Regions from separate parts of the Homo sapiens genome. Here all the other regions are linked to region 3. Evidence: fine-mapped expression QTL. A gene starts in region 3. Each other region holds a variant in brackets. All regions are shown on one strand. Distances are from middle to middle.

What was found. PIP is the estimated chance that this variant, and not a neighbour inherited with it, causes the effect.
Region 1: its variant is fine-mapped to the expression of NNT in whole blood (INTERVAL, PIP above 0.99). The same link has a PIP of 0.9 or more in monocytes.
Region 2: its variant is fine-mapped to the expression of NNT in lung (TOPMed, PIP 0.99).
Region 4: its variant is fine-mapped to the expression of NNT in blood mononuclear cells (TOPMed, PIP above 0.99).
Region 5: its variant is fine-mapped to the expression of NNT in whole blood (INTERVAL, PIP above 0.99).
Region 6: its variant is fine-mapped to the expression of NNT in whole blood (TOPMed, PIP above 0.99).
Region 7: its variant is fine-mapped to the expression of NNT in whole blood (TOPMed, PIP above 0.99).

What each region holds. Positions count from the first base shown.
Region 1 is chr5:43,494,768-43,498,862 of GRCh38, forward strand. All of the region lies in intron 6 of C5orf34 (chromosome 5 open reading frame 34), which reads right to left. All of the region lies in intron 2 of C5orf34-AS1 (C5orf34 antisense RNA 1), which reads left to right. It also overlaps the pseudogene EEF1A1P19. Among named protein-coding and RNA genes, the nearest start is that of C5orf34-AS1, 13 kb to the left of the region's middle. The variant AT/A (reference allele first, on the strand shown) is at 1,815.
Region 2 is chr5:43,822,539-43,826,633 of GRCh38, forward strand. No RefSeq gene overlaps it. Among named protein-coding and RNA genes, the nearest start is that of NNT-AS1, 220 kb to the left of the region's middle. The variant C/T (reference allele first, on the strand shown) is at 1,877.
Region 3 is chr5:43,601,619-43,605,618 of GRCh38, forward strand. It overlaps NNT (nicotinamide nucleotide transhydrogenase), which reads left to right and starts at 1,562. Exons shown (of 22, transcript NM_182977.3): 1 at 1,562-1,676. NNT-AS1 (NNT antisense RNA 1) reads right to left here and starts at 1,612. Exons shown (of 3, transcript NR_073113.1): 1 at 1,160-1,612. RefSeq lists silencers at 910-1,129, 1,393-1,482, 1,603-1,822.
Region 4 is chr5:43,471,006-43,475,100 of GRCh38, forward strand. The region is part of intron 1 of TMEM267 (transmembrane protein 267); the gene reads right to left. Among named protein-coding and RNA genes, the nearest start is that of TMEM267, 11 kb to the right of the region's middle. The variant A/G (reference allele first, on the strand shown) is at 1,861.
Region 5 is chr5:43,792,854-43,796,948 of GRCh38, forward strand. No RefSeq gene overlaps it. Among named protein-coding and RNA genes, the nearest start is that of NNT-AS1, 190 kb to the left of the region's middle. The variant C/T (reference allele first, on the strand shown) is at 2,010.
Region 6 is chr5:43,396,672-43,400,755 of GRCh38, forward strand. All of the region lies in intron 1 of CCL28 (C-C motif chemokine ligand 28), which reads right to left. Among named protein-coding and RNA genes, the nearest start is that of CCL28, 14 kb to the right of the region's middle. RefSeq lists silencers at 448-507, 558-647. The variant A/G (reference allele first, on the strand shown) is at 1,946.
Region 7 is chr5:43,657,170-43,661,169 of GRCh38, forward strand. It overlaps NNT (nicotinamide nucleotide transhydrogenase), which reads left to right. Exons shown (of 22, transcript NM_182977.3): 17 at 2,002-2,181. Among named protein-coding and RNA genes, the nearest start is that of NNT-AS1, 56 kb to the left of the region's middle. The variant A/G (reference allele first, on the strand shown) is at 2,300.

The sequences.
Region 1 (4,095 bases), 110 kb before region 3:
CCATTTTTTTTTTCTCATTAAACTTTTTTAACAGGTCTCAAAATTCTGTGACAAATTTTTGGTCAAGTTGTTTCCATTAAAAAGTACTGATTTTAAAAACTAATAACTTAAAACTACCACATGCAAAAAAGAAAACCAAAGTGGTCCACAAAACATTCTCCTTTCCTTCTGAAGGTTTTACGATGCATTGTTATCATTAACCAGTCTTTCACTACTAAACTTAAATGGCCAATTGAAACAAACAGTTCTGAGACCATTCTTCCACCACTGATTAAGAGTTGGGTGGCAGGTATTAGGGATAATATTCATTTAGCCTTCTGAGCTGTCTGGGCAGACTTCGTGACCTTGCCACCTCCAGCAGCCTTCTTGTCCACTGCTTTGATGACACCCACCGCAACTGTCTGTCTCATATCACGAACAGCAAAATGACCCAAAGGTGGATAGTCTGAGAAGCTCTCAACAATGGGCTTGCCAGGAACCATATCAACAATGGCAGCATCACCAGACTTCAAGAATTTAGGGCCATCTTCCAGCTTTTTACCAGAACCGCGATCAATCTTTTCCTTCAGCTCAGCAAACTTGCATGCAATGTGAGCCGCGTGGCAATCCAATATAGGGGCATAGCCAGCGCTTATTTGGCCTGGATGGTTCAGGATAATTACCTGAGCAATGAAGTCAGCTGTTTCCATTGGTGGGTCATTTTTGCTGTCACCAGCAACGTTGCCACGACGAACATCCTTGACAGACACATTCTTGACATTGAAGCCCACATTGTCCCCAGGAAGAGCTTCACTCAAAGCTTCATGGTGCATTTCGACAGATTTTACTTCTGTTGTAATGTTGACTGGAGCAAAGGTGACCACCACACCAGGTTTGAGAACACCAGTCTCCACTCGGCCAACAGGAACAGTACCAATACCACCAATTTTGTAGACATCCTGGAGAGGCAGGCGCAAGGGCTTGTCAGTTGGATGAGTTGGTGGTAGGATGCAGTCCAGAGCCTCAAGCAGCATGGTGCCGCTGGCACTGCCATCCTTACGGGTGGCTTTCCATCCCTTGAGCCAAGGCATGTTAGCACTCGGCTCCAGCATGTTGTCACCATTCCAACCAGAAATTGGCACAAATGCTACTGTGTCAGGGTTGTAACCAATTTTCTTAATGTAAGTGCTGACTTCCTTAACAATTTCCTCTTCTCTCTTCTGGCTGTAGGGTGGCTCAGTGGAATCCATTTTGTTAACACCAACAATTAGTTGTTTCACACCCAGTGTGTAAGCCAGAAGGGCATGCTCTCAGGTCTGCCCATTCTTGGAGATACCAGTTTCAAATTCGCCAACACCAGCAGCAACCATCAGGACAGCACAGCCTGAGATGTCCCTGTAATCATGTTTTTGATGAAGTCTCTGAGTCCTGGGGCATCAATGATAGTCACATAGTACTTGCTGGTCTCAAATTTCCACAAGGAGATATCAATGGTGATACCACGTTCACGCTCAGCTTTCAGTTTATGCAAGACCCAGGCATACTTGAAGGAGTCCTTTCCCATCTCAGCAGCCTCCTTCTCAAATTTTTCAATGGTTCTTTTGTCGATGCCACCACATTTGTAGGTCAGATGGCCAGTAGTGGTGGACTTGCCCGAATTTACGTGTCCAATGACGACAATGTTGATATGAGTCTTTTCCTTTCCCATTTTGGCTTTTAGGGGTAGTTTTCACAACACCTGTGTTCTGGTGGCAAACCCATTGTGGGAAAAAAAAGCCATTTTCCCATTTTTTAAAAATATAGAATTACTCCTATTCATTCAAAAGTTTTTTTTA[AT/A]TTTTTTTTTTTTTTTTTTTTTTGGAGACAGGGTTTTACTCTGTTGCCCAGGGCTGGAGTACAGTGGCGCAATTACAGCTCACTGCAGCCTCTGTGGCTCAAGGAGTCTTCCCACCTCAGCCTCCCAAGTAGCCAGGACCACAGGCACATGCCACCATACCGGGCTAATTTTTTAAGTTTTTTTGTAGAGGCGAGGTCTTACTATATTACCCAGACTAGTCTCAAACTCCTGGGCTCAAGGGATCCCAAAGTGCTGAGATTACAGGCATGAGCCACTGTGCCTGGCCCAAAAGTTACATTCTAATAACTTATTGTGCAATTTAAATATTAGCTACATTTACATTAACATGGTAACCAAACTAATTTTCCTACACATTAGCAGGAAATTTATCATGAGCCACCCCTTTCCCTTAAGACAAAAAGACATGGATATATAGATTTAAAAAAACTATTTTAATTGAATGAATATACCATTTTGCTACATTAATGGAAGAAATACTGCTACAGTTTGTGGAAGAAAAAATTATTTACAGGCGGAGGTTACTGAAATTTGAAAAAAATTGTTATTTTAAAATTCTTTCTGAGTTTCCTCCTCCTCAGACTTGCTAGTGTTTCCCAGCACTCTGTCTCCAGCCTTCTCTTCTGACTTCTTGATTTCTTTTTAGATAATACTAAAAGGGTCCAAAGCTGTGTTCACATTAAATATCATAATAGCAACAGCTAACATTTGTGGAGCAGATACTATGCGCTAGGCACTATCCTACTCACTTTACATGGATTATCTCATTTATTCCTCAAAATAATTCTGAGATAACTATTAATGCTTGTTCTTCAGATGAGAAAACTGAGACTGAGGGCTAAGAAACAGTAGAGATCTGATTTAAACCACCAAGAGAGTGCAGCTCATACTCTTTACCATTAGGGGAAGAAGAGGGGCTTCAAAGTCAGACAGATGTGGATTCAAATCACAAGTCTGCCTCTTACCAACTATAATGATGGGCAGGCTATACAACCTTTTGTAAGCCTCAGTGCCTGCAGCCTGTGAAATGGGGATACTGCCTACCATCCAGACTTATCTGAGGATTAATGATATAATATACATATGAAGTTCCTGGGACAGAATTTAGCATATAATAGGTACCAAACAAAAGTCTTTGTCCTTTTATCTTGGTCTACAGACCTGACTATCTAAATCTCTATTGGGCTTCTCTTTTGGCTATGAAAACAGACACCTCAACATCACCATGTTAAAACTGGAATTAGCGTCATTTCAAAATTTGCACTTTCACTTTCTCTACGCTGTATTTACCTTTGGTATGTCATTTATCACGTTGTTCCCTCTACCTAGAACTCAGTTCCCTCCTCCAGCACCTCCCTTTGCCTAGCTAACACCTGTTTTTCCTTCCGTCTCAGGGAAGCCATTGCAGAGGTCTCATAGACTAGGAGAAATCCCCTAGTTATGTCCACAAGCACAGTTCCCTCTAATCCTGCCTCTTGGTCTTAATTACAACTTCAATTTAATAGTTTTTTACTTAATGTCTGTTTTCCCTGTTAGAATGCAGCTCCATGAAGGAAGGGGCTGTGTCTGTTTTGCTCATGTCTGTATCATTATCATTTATTAGCACAGTGCTTAGCACATGGGAAGCACTCAAAATACCATATTTTAATTATTTATGTCTTTCTCTACTGGATATTGAGTTCCCTCTGGGTTCTTATTTCCAAGACCCTATTTCATCAACTCTAAAATGCTCATTTTTCACAATTTAACCTCTCTGAAATCTGGATCCATCTTACAATTAAGAGTGTCTTATAATCTATTAGGCAGGTGGGGTTGAGATATAGTTGAATTTTAATAATCTCAAATCCTTAATTGACATCTCATGGTAGGCGCAAAAGAAAAAAAAGCCATCATCAAAAAAATTTAGATTTGATAAAAATTTTGGTTTCACACAGTACCGGGCACCACCATTCATTGATTAATAATTTGGCATCCCTTTCAACTCCTTCCTCATCCTCAGCGTCCAGTCAGCAATCAATTCTGTCTCCTTAATATTCCTTCTCATTTTTCCTACCACTGCCTGGCCTTCACTTGAACTACTATACATGTCTTCTGACTGGTTCTACAGCTTCAAGTTTTACCTCTTCCCCACCCAGTTCATCTTCCTCTGAAATAATCTAACAAAAATCTGATGTCACTTCCCTACTTGAAATCATTCAATGGTTCCCCAAATGCAGTGAGGTTACTCATGCTCCAGTTGTGAGCTGGCCATCTTAGTGATC
Region 2 (4,095 bases), 220 kb after region 3:
ATAAAATTTAAATAATACAAATAATCTTACTGAGAGAGAATATCATTAGCTACATTTTACCCGTATGAAAACTAATTAAGTAACTTACTTTAAAGTTGTATAGCTAGTTTTTGGCAGAAAAGACAAGAATTTTAGTTTCCTGAGTCCACATCTGATTTTCTTTCCATGGTACTAAATTGCCTATCTTGCAAAGTTAGGGGCATGTCCGCCTATGATTCCAAGCCCCTAAATAGTCCATTCATCTGTTGTTGGACACCTAGATTGATTCCACATCTTGGCTACTGTGAACAGTGCAGCAATAAACATGGGAATGCAGATGTCTCTTTGACGTAATAATTTCTTTTTCTTTGGATATATACCCAGTAGTGGGATGAATGAATCATATGGTAGTTTCATTTTTAGGTTTTTGAGGAACCTCCATACTGTTTTTCATTGTGGTTGTGCTAATTCACTTCCCCACAACAGTGTATAAGAGTTCCTTCTCCACAACCTCACCAGCATCTGTTATTTTTAGTATTTTTAATAGTGCTATTCTAACTGGGGTAGGATAATATCTCATTGTGGTTTCGATTTGCATTTCTCTGATGATTAGTGATGTGGAACATTTTTTTCATATACCTGTTGGCCATTTGTATGTATTATTTTGAGAAATGTCTATTCATATCATTAGCCCACTTTTTAATGGGATTTCTTTTTAAATGGAGGAGTTGTTTGAATTTCTTGTATATGCTGGATATTAATCCCTTTTCAGATGAATAGTTTGCAAATATTTTTCTCTCATTCTGTAAGTTGTATCTTCACTCTGTTGATAGTTTCTTTTGCTGTGCAGAAGCTTTTTAGTTTAATATAATCCTATTTGCCTATTTGTTGTGGTTGTCTGTGCTTTTGAGGTCTTAGCCATGAAATCTTTGCCTAGACTGATGTTTTGTTTTTTCTCTTTATTTTTTTTTCTAGCAGTTTTATTGTTTCAGGTCTTACATTTAAGTCTTTAATCCATCTTCAGATGATTTTTGTGTATGGGGAGACATAGGTGTTCAGTCTATTCTTATGCATATCGTGAATTTCAAATTTTCCCAAAACTATTTATTGAAGAATTTCCTTTCCCCAGTGTATGTTCTTGGCACCTTTATTGAAAATCAGTTGGCTATAAATAAGTGAATTTAATTCTGGTGTCATTATTCCGTTTCACTGGTCTATGTGTCTGTTTTTATATCCTTAACAATCCTGTTATTATAGCTTTCTAATACATTTTGAAGTGAGATAGATGATGCCTTCAGCTGTGGTCTTTTTGCTCAGAATGGTTTTGGCTATTCTGGCTCTTTTTCTTTCTTTCTTTCTTTTTTTTTTTTTTTTTTTTTTAGTATTTATTGATCGTTCTTGGGTGTTTCTCGGAGAGGGGGATTTGGCAGGGTCATAGGACAACAGTGGAGGGAAGCTCAGCAGATAAACATGTGAACAAAGGTCTCTGGTTTTCCTAGGCAGAGGGCCCTGCCGCCTTCCACAGTGTTTGTGTCCCTGGGTACTTGAGATTAGGGAGTGGTGATGACTCTTAACGAGTATGCTGCCTTCAAGCGTCTGTTTAACAAAGCACATCTTGCACTGCCCTTAATCCATTTAACCCTTAGTGGACACAGCACATGTTTCAGAGAGCATGGGGTTGGGGGTAAGGTTATAGATTAACAGCATCCCAAGGCAGAAGAATTTTTCTTAGTACAGAACAAAATGGAGTCTCCTATGTCTACTTCTTTCTACACAGACACAGTAACAATCTAATCTCTCTTTCTTTTCCCCACATTTCCCCCCTTTCTATTCGACAAAACCACCATTGTCATCATGTTCTCAATGAGCTATTGGGTACACCTCCCAGATGGGGTGG[C/T]GGCCGGGCAGAGGGGCTCCTCACTTCCCAGATGGGGCAGCCGGGCAGAGGCAACCCCTCACCTCCCAGAGGGGGTGGCTGGCTGGGCGGGGGCTGCCCCCCACTTCCCGGACAGGGCGGCTGGCCGGGCGGGGGCTGCCCCCCACCTCCCAGATGGGGCAGCTGCTGGGCAGAGATGCTCCTCATTTCCCAGATGGGGCGGCTGCTGGGCAGAGGGGCTCCTCACTTCCCAGATGGGGTGGCTGGTCAGAGACGCTCCTCACCTCCCAGACGGGGTGGTGGCAGGGCAGAGACACTCCTCAGTTCCCAGACAGGGTCACGGCCGGGCAGAGGCACTCTTCACATCTCAGATGGGGCGGCAGGCCAGAGGTGCTCCCCACATCCCAGACGATGGGCGGCCGGGCAGAGACGCTCCTCACTTCCTAGATGGGATGACGGCCGGGAAGAGGCACTCCTCACTTCCCAGACTGGGCAGCCGGGCGGAGGGGTTCCTCACATCCCAGACGATGAGCGGCCAGGCAGAGACGCTCCTCACTTCCTAGATGGGGTGGCGGCCGGGCAGAGGCTGCAATCTCGGCACTTTGGGAGGCCAAGGCAGGCGGCTGGGAGGTGGAGGTTGTAGCGAGCCGAGATCACACCACTGCACTCCAGCCTGGGCAACATTGAGCACTGAGTGAGCGAGACTCCGTCTGCAATCCCAGCACCTCGGGAGGCCAAGGCTGTCAGATCACTTGCAGTCAGGAGCTGGAGACCAGCCTGGCCAGCACAGCAAAACCCTGTCTCCACCAAAAAAAAGAAAACCAGTCAGGTGTGGCGGTGTGCCCCTGCAATCCCAGGCACTTGGCAGGCTGAGGCAAGAGAATCAGGCAGGGAGGTTGCAGTGAGTCGAGATGGCAGCAGTACAGTCCAGCCTCGGCTGGGCATCAGAGGGAGACCGTGCAAAGGGTAGGGGGAGGGGGAGGGGGAGGGAGAGGGAGAGGGAGAGGGAGAGGGACTATTCTGGCCCTTTTTTGGTTCCATATGAATGAATTTTTTTTTTCTGATTCTGTGAAAAATGACATTTATATTTTTGATAGAGGTGGCATTGAACATGTAGATTACTTTCAGCACTATGGTCATTTTAATGATATTCTTCTAATTCCTGAACATGGGATGTCTTCCAATTTGTTTGTATCTTCCTAAGTTTCTTTACTTAGTGTTTCATAGATTTCCTTGTAGAGATCTTTCATCTCCTTGGTTAAATTTATTCCTAAGTATTTTATTTTTTGTAGTTATTGTAAATAGGATTGCTTTCTTAGTTTCTTTCTCAATAAGTTCATTATTGGTGTATAGAAGCACTACTGATTATTCTTTATTGATTTTGTATCCTACAACTTTAATGAACTTATTTATCAAATCTAGCAGTTTTTTTGTTGGAGTCTTAAGATTTTTCTAGATAAGATCATATCGTCAGCAAAACAGGACAATTTGAATTCCTCTTTTCTAATTTAGATGCCCTTTATTTCTTTCTCTTGCCTGATTGCTCTGGCTAGAACTTGTAGTGATATGTTGAGTAGGAATGGTGAAAGCAGACATCCTTGTCTTGTTCCAGATCTCAGAGGAAAGCTTTCAGTTCTTCCCCATTCAATATGATGTTAGCTGTGGGTTTGCCATATATGACCTTTATCATTTTGGGTATGCTTTTTCTATTCCTAGTGTGTTGAGAATTTTTATTGTGATGGGATGTTGAATTTTATCAGAGGCCTTTTCTGTATATATCGAGGTGATCATACGGCTTTTGTCCTTTATTCTATTGATGAGATAAATTATGTTTATTGATTTGTATGTTGAACCATACTTGCATCCCTGCTGTAAATCCTACTTCGTAATAGTATACTATTTTGGTAATGTGCTGTTAGATTGGTTTGCTAGTATTTTCTTGAGGGTTTTTATGTGTATGTTCATCAGGGATATTGACCTATAGTTATATTTTTTGCTGTGTCCTTTTCTGGTTTTCATATTAGAGTAACACTATTCTTATACAGTAAGTTATGGAAAGTTCCCTCTTCTTCAATTTTTTGGAATAGTTTAATGAGGATTGGTATTAATTCTTCTTTATAAGTGTGGTAGAATTTAGCTGAGATTCCATCCAGTTCTGAGCTTTTCTTTCTTCCTTTCTTTACTTTTCTTTCTTTCTTTCTTTCTCTCTTTCTTTCTTTCTTTCTTTCTTTCTTTCTTTC
Region 3 (4,000 bases):
GTGATATAAATTTATAAGCAAGTCAAAATTAAATAATGTACTGAGCATTAATTTAAGCCAGGATTTTTCAGCCTCAGCACTATTGACATTTGGGGCTGGATAATGCTTCGTCGTGAGGGGCTGTGTAGTGTGAGGTGTTCAGTAATATCCCTGGCCCCAACCCATTAGATAGGTCCCCTCTCCAATTGTGACAACCAAAATGTCTCTAGACATTGCCAAATATCCCTCGGAACTAAATTGTCCCCAGTTGGGAACCACGAATTATTAATCCCTAAAAGACAAAGCAGCAACTCCTGACCCCTACAAAAAGTTTTAAATCAATAACTTAGTTTAAAATCCTTACTAAGTGGGATCATTACTAATCTCACTTCATTGTACCTTCAGTATCTGGAAACCGTCCCTATGGTCACACTTACCACGGCTCATTATTATTTTAAAACATGGGGCTGTGTCATTTCCTGTCTGTGAGTTTGGACTGCAGTGGGAATCCATTAGTTGAATGACCTTCTGTGTAGGTTAATCACAAGACAAGTTCTCAAACTAAGGGTTTCCCTGCGGCTCATTTCTTTTTAAAGTTATGGAATACCTGTTCTGCTTATACCTTTTAGATTCATAATTATTTTTCTTGTATCAAAATTTCAATTAATAGAAATAAATGACGTTACTGACACTTCATGATGATTAAGTTTTGGGCAAGTGAACCATTTTACACTCTATTTTTTATTCCTCCCACTTTTAGTCAGAATACACCTGCAGAATAAGTAACAGAACTGTGTGAAAAGAACGACTAGGTCATTACGGTTAATAGTTTTAGAAAAACAGCCGAGGCCTGGTCTGGAAAGCTCACAACCTCCACCCAGATGCTTTCCAGCCTCGGGGATATTCGTACTAGCAGTGACACTAGCCAGCTTCCTCTAGGCTGGCTCTGATGTTGGAAGACAAGCACGCAGATGTGTGTTACTTTTCAAGCCTGGACATCGTTTCTGAGGAATTTAACTCCACCTCTCCTGCCAGAATGGAAAATCAACGCCCCCCATTCCCGCCCTTCACCAACCCCTCTCCGCCTGCCCCTTTCCCTTGGGTCCTCTCTGTTACAGAAGTTCTGATTTTTCCTAGCGAGCTGGAGGAAAGGCAGGTACCCGGAGTGGAGTTATATTACCTGTTTCTTTGTTCTGATGGGACCCCAGAGAGGACATCACGCTTTGTAACTGGTTCTTCAAGGGGAGAAGCAAATGTGTCCCTGAAAACTTCAGCTGCCGCGTTTGGCACCAGGTTTGATTGACAAGGACTGGCGGAGGGAAAGCGCGGAGGCTGGGCTGGGGGCCGCAGGCCGAGGCAGAGACAAAGAGGTTTCGCCTGTCCCCGAGAGTGGAAGGGCCCCTGGGGGTAACTAGCCTTTGAGCTCAAAGGGGCATTTCGTGAGGTCGCCTTTTGGTTCGGAGAGCGCGCGGCGATCGGGTGGAGGGGGCCTGGCGGGAAGAAAGCTGGGGCGGGGAAGGGGCGCGGGCCGAGGTGGGAGCGGAGCTGCAGTCACGTGGCCGCCCGCCGCCGCGGAGTTGGGGCTGTTCTTCCGGGTTGGAGGCGCAGCGCCGCGGGGCCCAAGCCCGGGTCTGCCAGCGCGACGTCCTCTCGCGGCCCTCAGGGCACAGCCCAAGGCTGTCAGCCTCCCGGCCCAGGTGAGCGCGACGGCACTGGCGGGTGCGGGCAGCCGGGGCGCGCGCCTAGGGCGCAGCTGGGAAAGGGGCTCGGGCCTTTCCTGAAGACCACGGCCCTCGCCGGGAGAGAGACCTGTCAAAGAGCAAAGCGGGGCGGGGTCGGCGGTGTCCCGGGCGCAGGGTGCATTGGGGTGTCCGCAGGCCGCAGGCTTAGGTGGGGAAGAAGCACCGTGCCTCTTGGTGTCCCTTTCTCGTCTCCTGCTGGGGCGATGTCGAAGGGAGTGGGCTGGTGGATTTGGGAACTGGGTCCCCGAAGAGGGCAGGGAATGAGGCGGCAGCTGTGCAGGTGCAGATATTTGCAGCTTTGGGGGACAGCGAGAGTCGTACGGGGTCATTTCGGCCCTCAAGATCGGGGGTGGTGGAGAGGGAGGTCATAGAGGACTTTCGATGGGCGGTTCATCCAGAGAGGTGGCAGCTGGATGCCCTTGAGGTATGCTTGACCCTTGAGGGAGTTCGGAGAGGGTGTCCGGCTGGGGACATAGGAGATTGCGAGCACAAATTGTGAGTGTGAGTTGGGGCGGTCTGGCGGTGGTGGGTACAAGTTTCTGGGGCCTAGGCTGGTGAGGAGGAAGAGACAGCGGAGAGGGCGACCTGGGCAGAGCTAGTTCAAACTCAACAGCCGGAATGACTATTTGCAGCCGTGGCCAATCGGCTTCCTAGGGAGGTTATAAATAGCGGTCTCGTGCAGATGCCAGCGGGTGGCAGTTAGTTGCCGAGCAAGGGACGGCACCGGTGGCAGTAGCCGTGACACCAGTGGCTTTGGGTGAGGTCACGGCGCCTGCCAGCCGAAGCTGGCTCAGTAGGGTATTGTGTCCTTGCTGGTATGTCTCGCTTTTAAAAGCGTGACTTGTTTATGGTTGCCGGTGTCCTTTATTCACCCTGTGGCGCCGGCCAGTCCTTAGGTGGTCTGTTTGTCAGGAGTCTTGTAGGACAGACTTATTCGGAGAAGCGCGTGGGGCTTAGGTGCCTACCTACTCTTCTTATTTAAAGTGTGCCCCTTTTCTTCATTGCACCCCTTTTATTTGTAAACCTTGACTTTTTATTAACAGACAGTTTAGGATTGCCTTCTTTCCAGCAGGTGCGCTTAGGCTGCTTACCTTGGTGATAGAATCAGTTTTCCACAAGGCTACACAAACATTTCCTTTTCAAAGGAAATTTTCCGAAAATCCTTGGAAAATGTGCTCAATAGGTACTTAGGCTTAAGGTCACCTAGCCCTATTCATTCAGTCAAAAATACTGACTTCCTCTGTGTTGTGCAAAGCACTGGGGGAGAGTAATACCAAAGTGAATATAACAGCTGATAAGGATATTCTCAGTCCTGGCAACAACCCTGAGAGGTAGGTGCTGTTATTTTATTTTTTCAAGTCTCGCTCTGTTGTCCAAGCTGGAGTACAGTGGCACAATCACGGCTTACTGCAGCCTGGAACTCCTGGGCTCAAGTGATTCTCCCACCTCAGACTCCCAAGTAGCTGGGACTTCAGGCTTGCACCACCATGCCCTGCTAATTAATTTTTTTTTTTTAGCAATGGGGGTCTCACTGTGTTGGCCAGGCTAGTCTTGAATTCTTGGCCTCAAGCAGTCCTCCCCACTAGCCTCCCAAAGAGATGGCATTATAGGCGTGAGCCACCACCCTGGGTGGGTGCTATTATTCCCCATTTTAAAGATGAGGAAATTAAGTACAGGGAAGTTAAGTGACTTCCCAAGGTCACACAGCCAATAAGTTGCAGAGTGGGGCTTCCAATCCGCAGATCCAGAGCTGACTCTCTTAAATATCTGTGGTATCCTCCCTCTTTAGGTTGGGTGCTTTCCCTCAAGGATTTTAATATCTAATAGGGGAAATAACCCATATAAGTTACATTAAACATACATATGAAAGCAATGCTTAAAAAGTTGTGCTTTTGGGCCGGGCGCGGTGGCTCACGCCTGTAATCCCAGCACTTTGGGAGGCCGAGGCGGGTGGATCATGAGGTCAGGAGATCGAGACCATCCTGGCTAACAAGGTGAAACCCCGTCTCTACTAAAAATACAAAAAATTAGCCGGGCGCGGTGGCGGGCGCCTGTAGTCCCAGCTACTCGGGAGGCTGAGGCAGGAGAATGGCGTGAACCCGGGAAGCGGAGCTTGCAGTGAGCCGAGATTGCGCCACTGCAGTCCGCAGTCCGGCCTGGGCGACAGAGCGAGACTCCGTCTCAAAAAAAAAAAAAAAAAAAAAAAAAAAAAGTTGTGCTTTTTTCCCCTAATTTTGAGTTATAAAGTTTTTTTCTTATTGCTTCAAAGCCACAGGAAC
Region 4 (4,095 bases), 130 kb before region 3:
TTAAAAGTTAAACAAAATTGGCAAAACTTTAGCCAGACTAAGAAAAAAAGAGGGAAGATAAAAGAGAGAAGATAAACAACTTCAGTAAAGTTGCAGGATACAAAAGCAACATACAAAAGTCACTAGCATTTCAATATGACAATATTGAACAATGTGAAACAGAAATTTTTAAAGTAATTCCACTTATAATAGCCACACATAAAATTAAATACCTAGGAATTAACCAAAGAAGTGAAAGATTTCTATAATGGAAAGTATAAAACAGTGAAGAAAGAAATTGAAGAGGACACCAAAAAATTGAAAAATTATCCATGTTCATGGACTGGAGGAATCAATATTGTTAAAATGTCCATAATACCCAAAGCAATCTATAGATTCAATGCAATCCCTATCAAAATACTAATGACATTCTTCACAGAAACAGAAAAAAAAAAAATCCTAAAATTTATATGGACCCACAAAAGGCCCAGAATACCCAAAGCTATCCTAAGCAAAAAGAACAAAACTGGAAGAATCACATTACCTGATTTCAAATTATACTACAGAGCTATAGTAACCAAAACAGCATGGTTCTGACATAAAAACAGACACATCAGCCAATGAAACAGAAAAGAGTACCAAGAAACAAATCTGCACACCTATAGCGAACTAATTTTTGACAAAGGTGCCAAGAACATACACTGGGGAAAAGACAGTCTATTCAACAAATGGTAATGGGAAAACTAGATATCTATATGCAGAAGAATGAAAGTAGACCCCTATCTCACACCATATACAAAAATCAAATCAAAATGGATTAAAAACTTAAATCTATACTTCAAACTATTAAACTACTACAAGAAAACATTGGGGAAAATCTCCACGACATTGATGTGGGCAAAAATTTCTTGACCAATATCCCTCAAGCACAGGTAACCAAAACAAAAATGGACAAATGGGATCACATCAGGTTAAAATGCTTCTGCACAAAGGATACAATCAGTAAAGTGAAGAAAAAAACACAGAGAACGGGAAAAAATATTTGCAAATTACCCATCTGACAAAGGAATAATAACCAAAATACGTAAGTGCTCAAACTGCTCTATAGGAAAAAAAATACAATAATCTAATAAAAAATGGGCAAAATATTTGAATAGACATTTCTCAAATGAAGACATAGAAATGGCAAACAGGCATATGTAAAGGTGCTCAGTATTTTTGATCATCAGAGAAATGCAAATCAAAACTATAATGAGGTATCATCTCCCCCAGTTAAAATGGCTTATATCCAAAAGACAGGCAATAACAAATGATGAAGAGGATGTGCAGAAAAGGGAAACCTTGTACTCTCTTGGTGGGAATGTAAATTAGTACAGCCACTATGGAGAACAATTTGAACGTTCCTCAAAAAACTAAAAATTGAACTACCATATGATCCAGCAATCCCACTGCTGGGTATATACCGAAAAGAAAGGAAATCAGTATATCAAAGAGATATCTACACTCCTATGTTTGTTGCAGCATTGTTTACAATAGCTAAGATGTGGAAGCAACCTAAGGGTCTATCAACATATGAATGGATAAAGAAAATATGGTGCATATTCACAATGGACTACTATTCAGCCATAAGAAAGAATGAGATCCAGTTATTTGCAACAACATGGATGGAACTGGAGAACATTTTGCTAAGTGAAATAAGCCAGACACAGAAACACAAATATCACATATTCTCACTTATTTGTGGGATCTAAATATCAAAACAATTGAACTCGTGGACATAGAGAGTAGAAGGATCATTACCAGAGGCTGTGAAGGGTGGTGGGGGGTCAGCAGGGGGAGGTGGGGATGGTTTATGGGTACTAAAAAAACAGAAGGCCGGGC[A/G]CGGTGGCTCACACCTGTAATCCCAGCACTTCAGGAGGCCGAAGTGGGCGGATCACAAGGTCAGGAGTTCAAGACCAGCCTGATCACCACAGTGAAACCCTGTCTCTACAAAAAATACAAAAATTAGCCGGGTGTGGTGGCGTGCACCTGTAATCCCAGCTACTCAGGAGGCTGAGGCAGGAGAATCACTCGAACCCAGGAGGCGGAGGTTGCAGCAAGACGAGATCACGCCACTGCACTCCAGCCTGGACTACAGAGCGAGACTCCGTGTCACAAAAAAAAAAAAAAAAAAAAAATAGAAAGAATGAGTAAGACCTAGTACTTGATAGCACAACAGGGTAACTACAGTGAATAATAACTTAATTGTACATTCAACATAGTTCTGGCCAGGGCAATCAGGCAAGAGAAAGAAATAAAGGGTATTCAATTAGGGAAAGAGGAAGTCAAATTGTCTCTGTTTGCAGATGACATGATTGTATAATTAGAAAACCCCATCGTCTCAGCCCAAAATCTCCTTAAGCTGATAAGCAACTTCAGCAAAGTCTCAGGATACAAAATCAATGCGCAAAAATCACAAGCATTCCTATACACCAATAACAGACAAACAGAGAGCCAAATCATGAGTGAACTCCCATTCACAATTGCTACAAGGAGAATAAAATACCTAGGAATACAACTTACAAGGGATATGAAGGACCTCTTCAAGGAGAGCTACAAACCACTCACTGATCAAGGAAATAAGAGAGGACACAAACAAATGGAAAAACATTCCATGCTCATGGATAGGAAGAATGAATATCATGAAAATGGCCATACTGCCCAAAGTAATTTACAGATTCAATGCTATCCTCATCAAGCTACCATTGACTTCCTTCACAAAATTGGAAAAAACAACTTTAAATTTCACATGGAACCAAAAAACAGCATGCATAAATAGCCAAGACAATCCTAAGCAAAAGGAACAAAGGTGGAGGCATCACGTGACCTGACTTCAATCTATACTACAAGGCTACAGTAACAAAAACAGCATGGTACTGGTACCAAAACAGATATATAGATCAATGGAACAGAACAGAGGCCTGAGAAATAACACCACACATCTACAACCATCTGATCTTTGACAAATCTGACAAAAAAAAGCAATGGGGAAAGGAATTCCTAGTTAATAAATGGTGTTGGGAAAACTGGCTAGCCATATGCAGAAAGCTGAAACTGGATCCCTTCCTTACACCTTATACAAAAATTAACTCAAGATGGATTAAAGACTTAAACGTAAGACCTAAAACCATAAAAACCCAAGAAGAAAACCTAGGCAATTTAGGACACAGGCATGGGCAAAGACTTCGTCTTTTGTTACCAAAAGCAATGGCAACAAAAGCCAAAATAGACAAATGAGATCTAATTAAACGAAAGAGCTTCTACACAGCAAAAGAAACGATCATCAGAGCGAACAGGCCACCTACAGACTGGGAGAAAATTTTTTGCAATCTATCCAACTGAAAAAGGGCTAATATCCAGAATCTACAGAGAAACCAATTTACAAGAAAAAAGCAAACAACCCCATCAAAAAGTGGGTGAAGGATATGAACAGACACTTCTCAAAAGAAGACATTTGCCAGGCGTGGTGCTCACGCCTGTAATCCCAGCACTTTGGGAGGCTGAGGCAGGTGGATCACCTGAGGTCGGGAGTTCGAGACCAGCCTGACCAACACGGAGAAATCCCATCTCTACTAAAAATACAAAATTAGCCAAGCGTGGTGGTGCATGCTTGTAATCCCGGCTACTCGGGAGGATGAGGCAGGAGAATTGCTTGAATCCAGCAGGCAGAGGTTGTGGTGAGCCAAGATCACGCCATTGCACTCCAGCCCGGGCAACAAGAGCAAAACTCTGTCTCAAAAAAAAAAAAAAAAAAAATGAAAAAAGGCTCATCATCACTGGTCATTAGAGATATGCAAATCAAAACCACATCTCACGCCAGTTAGAATGGCGATCATTAAAAAGTCAGGAAACAACAGATGCTGGAGAGGATGTGGAGAAATAGGAACGCTTTTACACTGTTGGTGGGAGTGTAAATTAGTTCAACCAATGTGGAAGACAGTGTGGCGATTCCTCAAGGATCTAGAACTAGAAATACCATTTGATCCAGCAATCCCATTCCTGGGTATATACCCAAAGGGTTATAAATCATTCTACTATAAAGACTCATGCACACGTATGTTTATTGTGGCACTGTTT
Region 5 (4,095 bases), 190 kb after region 3:
GCAAAGAGGTTAAAAACCTTGAAAAAAAATTAGATGAATGGCTAACTAGAATAACCAATGCAGAGAAGTCCTTAGAGGACCTGATGGAGCTGAAAACCATGGCATGAGAACTATGACAAATGCACAAGCCTCAGTAGCCAATTCAATCAACTGGAAGAAAGGGTATCAGTGATGGAAGATCAAATGAATGAAATGAAGTGAGAAGAGAAGTTTAGAGAAAAAAGAATAAAAAGAAATGAACAAAGCCTCCAAGAAATATGGGACCATGTGAAAAGACCAAATCTATGTCTGATTGGTGTACCTGAAAGTGATGGGGAGAATGGAACCAAGTTGGAAAACACTCTTCAAGATATTATCCAGGAGAAATTCCCCAATCTAGCAAGGCAGGCCAATATTCAAATTCAGGAAATACAGAGAACACCACAAAGATACTCCTCGAGAAGAGCAACTCCAAGACACATAATTGTCAGATTCACCAAAGTTGAAATGAAAGAAAAAATGTTAAGGGCAGCAAGAGAGAAAGGTCGGGTTACCCACAAAGGGAAGTCCATCAGACTAACAGCTGATCTCTCGGTAGAAACTCTACAAGCCAGAAGAGAGTGGGGGCCAATATTCAACATTCTTAAGGAAAAGAATTTTCAACCTAGAATTTCATATCCAGCCAAACTAAGCTTCATAAGTGAAGGAGAATAAAATCCTTTACAGAGAAGCAAATGCTGAGAGATTTTGTCACCACCAGGCCTCCCATAAAAGAGCTTCTGAAGGAAGCCCTAAACATGGAAAGGAACAATGGTACCAGCCACTGCAAAATCATGCCAAATTGTAAAGAACATCGAGGCTAGGAAGAAACTGCATCAACTAAGGAGCAAAATAACCAGCTAACATCATAATGACAGGATCAAATTCACACATAACAATGTTAACTTTTAATGTAAATGGGCTAAATGCTCCAATTAAAAGACACAGACTGGCAAATTGGATAAAGAGTCAAGACCCATTTTATTCAGGAAACCCATCTCACGTGCAGAGACACACATAGGCTCAAAATAAAGGGATGGAGGAAGATCTACCATGCAAATGGAAAACAAAAAAAGGCAGTTGTTGCAATCCTAGTCTCTGATAAAACAGACTTTAAACCAACAAAGATCAAAAGAGACAAAGAAGGCCATTACATAATGGTAAAGGGATCAATTCAACATGAAGAGCTAACTATCCTAAATATATATGCACCCAATACAGGAGCACGCAGATTCATAAAGCAAGTCCTTAGAGACCTACAAAGAGACATAGACTCCCACGCCATAACAATGGGAGACTTTAACACTCCACTGTCAACATTAGACAGATCAACAAGACAGAAAGTTAGCAAGGATATCCAGGAACTGAACTCAGCTCTGCACCAAGCAGACCTAATACACATCTCCAGAACTCTCCACCACAAATCAACAGAATATGCATTCTTCTCAACACCACATCGCACTTATTCCAAAATTGACCTCATTGTTGGAAGTAAAGCACTCCTCAGCAAATGTAAAAGAACAGAAATTATAACAAACTGTCTCTCAGACCACAGTGCAATCAAACTAGAACTCAGGATTAAGAAACTCACTCAAAAACTGCTCAACTACATGGAAACTGAACAACCTGCTTCTGAGTGACTACTGGGTACATAACAAAATGAAGGCAGAATTAAAGATGTTCTCTGAAACCAATGAGAACAAAGACACAACATACCAGAATCTCTGGGACACATTTAAAGCAGTGTGTGAGAGAAATTTATAGCACTAAATGCCCACAAGAGAAACAGGAAAGATCTAAAATTGACACCCTCACATCCCAATTAAAAGAACTAGAGAAGCAAGAGCAAACACATTCAAAAGCTAGCAGAAGGCAAGAAATAACTAATATCAGAGCAGAACTGAAGGAAATAGAGACACAAAAAACCCTTCAAAAAATCAATGAATCCATTAGCTGGTTTTCTTGAAAAGATCAACAAAATTGATAGACCG[C/T]TAGCAAGACTAATAAAGAAGAAAAGAGAGAAGAATCAGATAGACGCAATAAAAAATGATAAAGGGGATATCACCACCAATCCCACAGAAATACAAACTACCATCAGAGAATGCTTTAAACACCTCTAACCAAGTTAACTAGAAAACCTAGAAGAAATGGATAAATTCCTTGATGCATACACCCTCCCAAGACTAAACTAGGAAGAAGCTGAATCCCTGAATAGAACAATAACAGGCTCTGAAATTGAGGCAATAATTAATAGCTTACCAACCAAAAAAGTCCAGGACCACATGGATTTACAGCCAAATTCTACCAGAGGTACAAGGAGCAGCTGGTACTATTCCTTCTGAAACTATTCCAATCAATAGAAAAAGAAGGAATCCTCCCTAACTGATTTTATGAGGCCAGCATCATACTGATACCAAAGCCTGGCAGAGACACAACAAAAAAAGAGAATTTTAGACCAATATCCCTGATGAACATCGATGCAAAAATCGTCAATAAAATACTGGCAAACTGAATCCAGCAGCCCATCAAAAAGCTTATCCACCGTGATCAAGTGGGCTTCATCTCTGGGAGTCAAGGCTGGTTCAACATACGCAAATCAAGAAACGTAATCCAGCATATAAACAGAAACAATAACAAAAACCACGCAATTATCTCAATAGATGCAGAAAAGGCATTTGACAAAATTCAACAACCCTCCATGCTAAAAACTCTCAATAAATTAGGTATTGATGGGATGTATCTCAAAATAATAAGAGCTATCTATGACAATCCCACAGCCAATATCATACTGAATGGGCAAAAACTGGAAGCATTCCCTTTGAAAACTGCCACAGGACAGGGATGTCCTCTCTCACCACTCCTATTCGACATAGTGTTGGAAGTTTTGGCCAGGGCAATCAGGCAGGAGAAGGAAATAAAGGGCATTCAATTAGGAAAAGAGGAAGTCAAATTGTCCCTGTTTGCAGATGACATGATTGTATATCTAGAAAACCCCATCGTCTCAGCCCAAAATCTCCTTAAGCTGATAAGCAACTTCAGCAAAGTCTCTGAACACAAAATCAATGTGCAAAAATCACAAGCATTCTTATACACCAATAACAAACAAACAGAGAGCCAAATCATGAGTGAACTCCCATTCACAATTGCTTCAAAGAGAATAAAATACCTAGGAATCCAACTTACAAGGGACATGAAGGGTCTCTTCACAGAGAACTACAAACCACTGCTCAATGAAAAAAAGAGGTTACAAACAAATGGAAGAACATTCCATGCTCATGGGTAGGAAGAATCAATATCGTGAAAATGGCCATACTGTCCAAGGTAATTTATAGATTCAATGCCATCCCCATCAAGCTACCAATGACTTTCTTCACAGAATTGGAAAAAACTACTTTAAAGTTCATATGGAACCAAAAAAGAGCCCACATTGCCAAGTCAATCCTAAGCCGAAAGAACAAAGCTAGAGGCATCACGCTACCTGACTTCAAACTATACTACAAGGCTACAGTAACCAAAACAGCATGGTACTGGTACCAAAACAGAGATATAGACCAATGGAACAGAACAAAGCCCTCAGAAATAATGCCGCATATCTACAAATATCTGATCTTTGACAAACCTGACAAAAACAAGAAATGGGGAAAGGATTCCCTATTTAATAAATGGTGCTGGGAAAACTGGCTAGCCATATGTAGAAAGCTAAAGCTGGATCCCTTCGTTACACCTTATACAAAAATTAATTCAAGATGGATTAAAGACTTAAATGTTAGATGTAAAACCATAAAAACCCTAGAAGAAAACCTAGGCAATACCATTCAGGACATAGACATGGGCAAGGACTTCATGTCTAAAATACCAAAAGCAATGGCAACAAAAGCCAAAATTGACAAATGGGATCTCATCAAACTAAAGAGCTTCTGCAGAGAAAAAGAAACTACCATCACAGTGAACAGTTAACCTACAGAATGGGAGAAAATTTTTGCAATCTACTCATCTGACAAAGGGCTAATATCCAGAATCTACAATGAACTCAAACAAGTTTACAAGAAAAAAGCAAACAACCCCATCAACCAGTGG
Region 6 (4,084 bases), 200 kb before region 3:
TTTATTTAAAACACATACACGAAAAAAACGTGTGTTCAACTAAAAACCCGGAAAAGGAAAATCAGAGGAAACAAAGCACGAGAAAAAAAGAAAGAAAGAAAGAAAGAACGAAAAAAGAAAAGCACGACGTTATGGCGCTTTGAGGCTGTCGCGCTACTGGTATCTGTAGTCGTGGCTGCCGTGGACCAGGAGAGACTGAAGTGGAAAACAGCGGGCGGTAGCCGAAGCAGAGAGCAAGGAAGAGCGCGGGAAGTGCAGAGCGACAGCAACAAGAAAGGGGTGGCGCGGGACGTCGTTTACCTGGGCGACGTCCAGCCGCCCTTCCCGCCTCTGCGCGTACGCAACCTGCTTGGCGCCACTGACCTGGTGAGGAGGCTTCTTTAAGGCCGTGGACGGTTCCTACCCGCGCGCGGAGAGGACCGACGTGAAGAAGCTGCCAAAGTATAACAAGTACTACGCGAAGGGTAGGTAGGGTGGAGTCCCAGGCAGCGCGTGACGGCCGGATGCCCAGACGCGCACGTCGCCCGCAGGCGCACGCCTGGACCCGGGGGAGCCGGCTGGGGCGCCCAGGACCAGGCCTAGCCTACCGCGGGCTGCCCTTCACAGAGCTGCAGGAGAAAACGTTGTATTGTGCACGCATTCCCTAACCCTTACTAGTTTTTTTTTTTTTAATTGATCGGCCAGCTTTTGATGCGGGTATGTTAAAATCTCCCACTGTTATTGGGATTATGCCAGTTTTTTTTTTTCTTGCATTTCTGTCTACTTATGTGATACAACACTTGGGGTTATGTTTTCAGACGCCCAAGTACCCTCCTGGTCCACAGCCAGAATTAAAATGAGGCACGAGCCTCAGGTGCAGAATTTAAGGGACCGCCAAAAGAACTCCGTAATGAAGATAAGCAATATTTGGATGCAATATTTTTAAAAATAAAAATTAATGCAAAAAAGTCTATGATTAGTAAAATGCTGCAATTTTAAATAAAAACAAAATCTGACTGCATTTTCACGCCTCGATCATCTCTCTTGCCTCACAGGAGTCTGGGCCCTAGAGATAGCTTTTCTGTGAAGTGAACTTTTTTATCTTTCGGTTAAGATTCCTCTATTTCTACTATAACTTTTTGCTTAAATCATATTTTTCTGTTATTGACATTGCTACACTAATCTTTTGGTTTGTATTCATTTATTCTCTCTTTTTTTTGCGTTTTTAAATCCTTTTTCTTTGCTTTTTATTCTTTCTGTTGGAAAGGTATTTTCTGTATTTCCTTTATTAATATTTTTCTACTAAAAATTTAGGCAGAGTTGGGTCAAGAAAAAGCTCCCTTGGGAAAAATGTCTACAATATCTAGTACCGACATGTTTCTTTTTGAATCGTAGAAGTGTGTTATTTTACTAATTCAAGTGATTGTCACATCAGTAAAATTCTAGAAGCATTTATAGGGTGCTGCCTGCATTGTATCAGTCTTTGTAACAGACACCGAGTATATAAGAATTAATAAGTCATAGTACCTGCCCTCAGGGCGCCTACAATTAGCAATTAGCAGACTTTTTTTTCTTTTTTTCCTTAGATAAGATCTTGCTCTGTCACCCAAGCTGGAGTGCTGGAGTGCAGTAGTACAAACACAGCTAACTGCAGCCTTCACCTCCTGGCGTCAAGTGATCCTCTTGCCTCAGCCTCCCGTGTTGCTGGGACCACCGGTGCACACCACCATGCCTACCTAATTTCTTTATTTTTTTGTAGAGATGGGACCTCACTTTGTGCCCAGGCAGAGCAGACATTTTTCTAACATTGTCTCATTGGACCTCTCTGCTGTATTTAACACTTACCCATTCCTTCCTTGAAAATTTCCATATTCCTAGTTACTAGTCTCTTCTAATATTCTGAATAATGAGAAATTACAGCTGGGCACAGTGGCTCATGCCTGTAATCCCAGCACTTTGGGAGGCC[A/G]AGGCAGGAGGATCACGAGGTCAGAAGTTCAAGACCAGCCTGGCCAAGATGGTGAAACCCCATCTCTACTAAAAATACAAAAAAATTAGCCGGGCATGGTGGCAGACGCCAGTAATTCCAGTTACTCAGGAGGCTGAGACAGAGAATTGCTTGAACCCGGGAGGTGGAGGTTGCAGTGAGCCGAGATTGTGCCACTGCACTCCAGCCTGGGCGACAGAGAGGGACTCCATCTCAAAAAAAAAGAAGAGAAATTACTTTCTCTGCCTCTTGAATGCGTCCTCCTTTGCCCTCTCCTCAATAGTTAGCATTCTGAAAGTGCCATCCCTAACCTACTGCTCTTTTCTTTCCACATCTCATGTTTAAAATTTTTACTATGTCAGTAACTTCAAAATGTGTTTTTTTAGCTCTACCCAAATATTCTGATGTGTATCCACCTGCCATTGAATATGCACTTGGATATCCCACAGGCACCCCAAACTCAACAGAGCCGCAACTGAAGACATCATCTCCTGCCACTTTAAATCTACTGTTTTCCTTTTCTCATCTCGTTTAATCACTTTGTACTGTTATCCAAGTGTAATTCCATCTTCTGCACTCCCATGGCCAGTCAAACTCCTGTAGATTGTATTTTCCTTAACACTTTTCAGATCTGTCTCCTCTTTCTCCTTGTTACCACTCTTAGTTCAGGACCTTATTAATTGACTTCTGGACTGCTGAACCTCTCAGTTGTCTACTTTCTTCCAATTTTGTCATTTCCCCATTTGAATCTGAGGTCCCACAGTACCTTGTGCTTTCCTATATCTTAGTCTTTACCATGTATGACATTAAGAGTCTATATGACTGTCTTTTGACTGTAAGCTCCCACAGGGCATCTTTGTAACCCCCCACCACATAGCACATTGTCTGGTATTAGTGCTAAAAAAGTTTCTTGGACTGAACTAAGCTCCGATCTTATCAGTGTTTCATTTTTATCTTGTTTTAAGGCTTTTAATGTCCAAAATATTTTTGCTTTTTTTCTAGGAATAGTATTTTCAGTTTTTGGTCAAGCTCTTATGTCCCAAATTATCTACAATTACACAGTGCTTTTCATAGGTACCATCCCTGCACATTGAAGTAATAAGGGGTCAGTCAATATGATAAATCATTTGTTCACTATATGTAATATTGTAAAGATGTTTTTAGTATCTGATCAAAAGCATTCCTATTTGTCTTATTATGGTGTTATTTCTTTTCTTTTTTTTTTTTTTGGGAGACCGTCTTGTTCTGTTGCCCAGGCTGGAGCGCAATGGTGTGATCACGGCTCACCGCAGCCTTGAATGCCCAGGCTCAAGTGATCCTCCTGCCTTAGCTGCCCAAGTAGCTCGGACTACAGGTGCACCCCACTATGCCTGGCTAATTTTTAAAATTTTTTGCAGAAACAGGGTGTTGTATGTTACCCAGGCTGGTCTCAAACTCCTAGCCTCAAGCAATCCTCCCACCTCAGCCTCCCAAAGTGCTAGGATTATAGGCATGAGCCACTGCACCTGGCCTTATTCTGGTGTTATTTCTATTAGTTTTGGATTATTGTCATTATTATTCCCAGTATTAAGTGTATGGATGATTTTCCAGGAATGTGAGTCCCTGTTTTGGTTCTGTCTATGATACAGTTTTAGTCACTAGAGGGCTGTAAAGATCTCTTAGTGCTCAAGAACTGTTGGCACTACACATCAAATTTGTGATACAAAAGTTAGATTCTGGGTTTTGTTATTGTTGGAGAGTGGGGTCTCACTCTATTGCTCAGGCAGGTCTCGAACTCCTGGACTCAGGCTATCCTCCCACCTTTGTCTCCCCAAGTGCTGGATTACAGGCGTGATCCACTGCGCCTGGCAGATTTTGGGTTTTCAGGAAAGGATCTTGCTATTGTAGAGACGTGAACAGCTTCCTCTTACTTGGATGTGTTGTATAGGATCTCACTACTCAAAGTGTGGCTCCCAGAGCCACAACAATGGCATCACCTGGGAGCTGATTAGAAATGCAATTTGAAAGGCACTGGTACTATATATAGAACACAGCAAAATAGAAACAGAGTAAAGAAAGGCACATGCAATTATTGGAGAAAGGATTTGCAGACTAAAGATAAAAATGATATAAAAGATTCAC
Region 7 (4,000 bases), 56 kb after region 3:
TTTATACAATACAAGTAAGATAGTCTCTGCCCACCAGTTGCTCTTACATCATTGGAAGATATGACACGAAATCAAATAAGTATAAAATGAAATGCAGTTAAAAAACCCTGTATGCTCAGTGAGAGTATTCAGTGAAGGCTTTTATGATAGGTTTGGCTTTCTTCTTTCTCTGCAATTTTTATATTTAGTGTATTGAAACACACAGTAGTTTTTAGTTGTCTATGTGACAGTCTGGCATCTTATATCAATGTATGATGCTGTTTTATGCAGCGCTATTTACTGTTATTCACTGTTACTCATGTTCTTTCAGTGTGTAATCCGTAGACAAGGTTTATATTTAAGTTAAAAAAATTATCTACAGTAACTAACACAAAGTTAGACACATAGCAATTGCTTATGAAATACTTACTGGCTCCTTGATTGAGAAACACCTAATTTATAGTGTAAAAATGATACTTATTTTTGTGTGATCATGGCAGTTAGGTCATGATTTTAACACAGAAATTTTAGAACACTGAAAAGTAAATTAAAATCTCATCTTTATATTCACACTCATGGTCTAATTTTATTCTGGCTTATTGCACTGGTTTTTGTTTTAAACAAAAGAAAAATAATTTTGATATTTTTAATCTAATAAAGCAGAATAGGTTGATGAAGTCTCAAAATAAAAGATATACAAATGTGATTGGGTGAGGTGGCTCATGACTGTAATCCCAGCACTTTGGGAGGCCGAGGTGGGTGGATCACCTGAGGTCAGGAGTTTGTGACTAGCCTGGCCAGCATGGTGAAACCCCGTCTCTACTAAAAATACAAAAATAAGCCGGGTGTGGTAGTCTGCGCCTGTATTCCCAGCTGCTCGGGAGACTGAGGCAGGAGAATCGCTTGAACCTGGGAGGCGGAGGTTGCAGTGAGCCGAGATCATGCTATTGCACTCCAGCCTGGGTGACAAAGCAAGACTCTGTCTCAAAAAAAAAGAAAGAAAAAAAGATATACAAATCTAAAACTTTAAGAATTGTTGTTTTTGGGAAGCAGTGACTATGATATTTAAAGGATTTATTGGTTCTATGAGAATGTCTGACTAAGACAAAGTATTTTTTGAATTTATTTTATTGCTTTTGGCTTAAATGAGTAATACATGAATATGCTCTCATTGTAACAAACAAAAAAAGGTAAAAACATGTGAAATAAAAAGCAAAAAGCTTTTTCCTTTCATGTGTTTAGTAATTTCGAGTTGTATCACGGACATTGTTAATGATACATTATAGACATTTTGGATGTTATGTTATATTCCTTCAAAGGGTATTGATTATTATTATTTATTTATGTGTTTTTGTAGCCAGCTAACTTGGCTAAACTCAAATTCCAAATTTTGACTCCCTTATGGTGGGTGGTGGGGGGCAGCTGAAATCTATTGTTATTTTATCCTTAACAGGATTGCTTGGAGTCTGTCTCACATATGTGTAGTTCAAGAGTCATCCAGAGATTTGAGTAGAATTTATAAACAGAAACTGGGACTCCTTCCCTCTAGCCTGCTTCTTTGTGGGATTCCCCTTATTACTTTCCAGCTGCCTTAGTCATCTCAAATGCTATCTTCAGGATCTTCAAGTCAGTAAGACTGTGGGCTTATATTTTATAATTTCCTTAACTGGTACCAACAGGGGATTGCCCTCAGTCTAAAGCCATAAAAACTGGGAAATTCACTTAGTGTCATTGTATTTTTCCAAATGTAGACGCTTCTCCAGTTTCTGCCTGCTTTTCATCACTGAAAAGTGTTTTTTTAAAATGTAGGGATTTTTTTTTAGGGGGGTGGGTGGCTCAGTGTTTATAGTTGTTATACCTGTGGAAGTGTTGGTCAGATGGGAGACACTTATTACCGGAAGTGGAACTTATATGTAAATATATTAATGGGAAAACTAGAATAATTAAGGAGCAAAATGTTAAATGTCAGAGGTTTTATTTTTATGTTATTAATTTTGAGTTCTGATTTGATTGTTGTTCTAGGGTGTGACTTTGACAGCTGCTATTGGGGGTGCTGACATGCCCGTCGTTATCACTGTGCTGAACAGCTACTCAGGCTGGGCCCTGTGTGCAGAGGGCTTCCTGCTCAACAACAATCTGCTGACCATCGTGGGTGCACTCATAGGCTCGTCTGGTGCTATCCTGTCATACATCATGTGTGTGGTAAGAAACAACACATACATGAAACAAAAGGAAATGGCTTCCTGAAAACATGGATGTGCATGTCATTTCTTTTATTACCCATAAAAATGAATATTGTAGGCTGGGCATGGTAGCTCAC[A/G]CCTGTAATCCCAGCACTTTAGGAGGCCAAGGCAGGTGGATCACGAGCTCAGGAGTTCAAGACCAGCCTGCCCAAGATAGTAAAACCCTGTCTCTACTAAAAATACAAAAATTAGCCAGGCGTGGTGGTGGGTGCCTGTAATCCCAGCTACTTGGTAGGCTGAGGCAGAGAATTGCTTGAACCCAGGAGGCAGAGGTTGCAGTGACTGAGATCATGCCACTGTACTCCAGCCTGGGTGACATAGCGAGACTCCATCTCAAAAGAAAAAAAAAAGAGTATGGTAGCTTTGAATTCTCTTCAGCAGACATAGCAGAGTATTTCATTTGCATAAATTTCCAAGACTGCCTTTAAGGTACCCAACTGTAAATAATTAGGAAAATTAAATAGAAAGATGAAAATCTTCTAGTGCCTCTCTCCATCTGGAGATAAACAGGTAAGATTTTGGTTTATTTCCTTATGTATGGCATATCTGTGTATTTACTTGTCTGATCGTGTTGTATATTGTCCTACATTTAAAAAAACTTATATACTATATTGTTGACTTTTTGTCATTAAAAATTCTTTTAAAATATTATTTTAAGAGACTTTATCGTGATCCATCATATGGATATACAAAATTTATTTAATTTGCCCTTAATGCTATACATATGAAGTTGTTTGATTTTGATTTCTCTTTGTACATATCTTTGACATTTCAGATTTTTGTCTTAAGATAGATTCCTAGAATTTATAGGCTCATTATACTTATAGCCATGTTTCTGGAAAGGTTGTTCTAATTTACACTCCTGTTGGTCATCTGTGAGAGTTTCTACCTTAGAAGTTTTGTGGTCAGCATGATGGTTTTTTAAAAGAACAGAAAAAAGTAACAACACTAATACTTCCTAGCTTTTCTGTTTGTTTCAAGTTCTCTTCTTGATGGCAAGAAGATGTTCTGCAAATATTATAATTAAAGGTTTGAGTAGAACTTTTTTTTTCAAATTATGGATGTTATTTTCTAAATAATAATGAAACTAAATGAAAGCAGAACGTGATTTTACACTGATAAATAATTTAGACAAGAAAGGGATCTGTATTAGTCCATTCTCACACTGCTGTAAAGAACTACCTCAGACTGGGTAATTTATGAAGTAAAGAGGTTTAATTGACTCACAGCTCCACAGGCTTAACAGGAAGCATGACTGTGAGGCCACAGGAAGCTTACAATCATGGCAGAAGGTGAATGGGAAGCAAGCACATCTTACCATAGCGGAGAAGGGGAGAGAGTGAAGGGGGATGTGCCACACACTTTTAAAGCACCAGATCTCGTGAGAACTCACTAGCATAAGAACAGCAAGGCGGAAGTCAGCCCCCATAATCCATCACCTTCCACCAGGTCCCCCCGTGGCATGTGGGGATTACAATTCGACATGAGATTTGGGTAGGGACTCAGAGCCAAACCATATCAGATACTTACTCTACCTTCATTCTTTTATTATAATATTTTAAAAAACTCGCTTATTTTACAACTCAGGATTTTTCTTATGATTTAACTGAAAATCTCATTGTAATTTGGAAGGCTGAAGTATCTTTTCATAGTAAAAAATATTTTTGTTTCTTAGGCTATATTGCAAAACAAAGGATTTGATAGCCCAAATTCAAAACAAGCTAAGGGGTTTTAAAATTAAATAGCCTAAATTACCTGGGGAATTTGGAAAGGTGAAG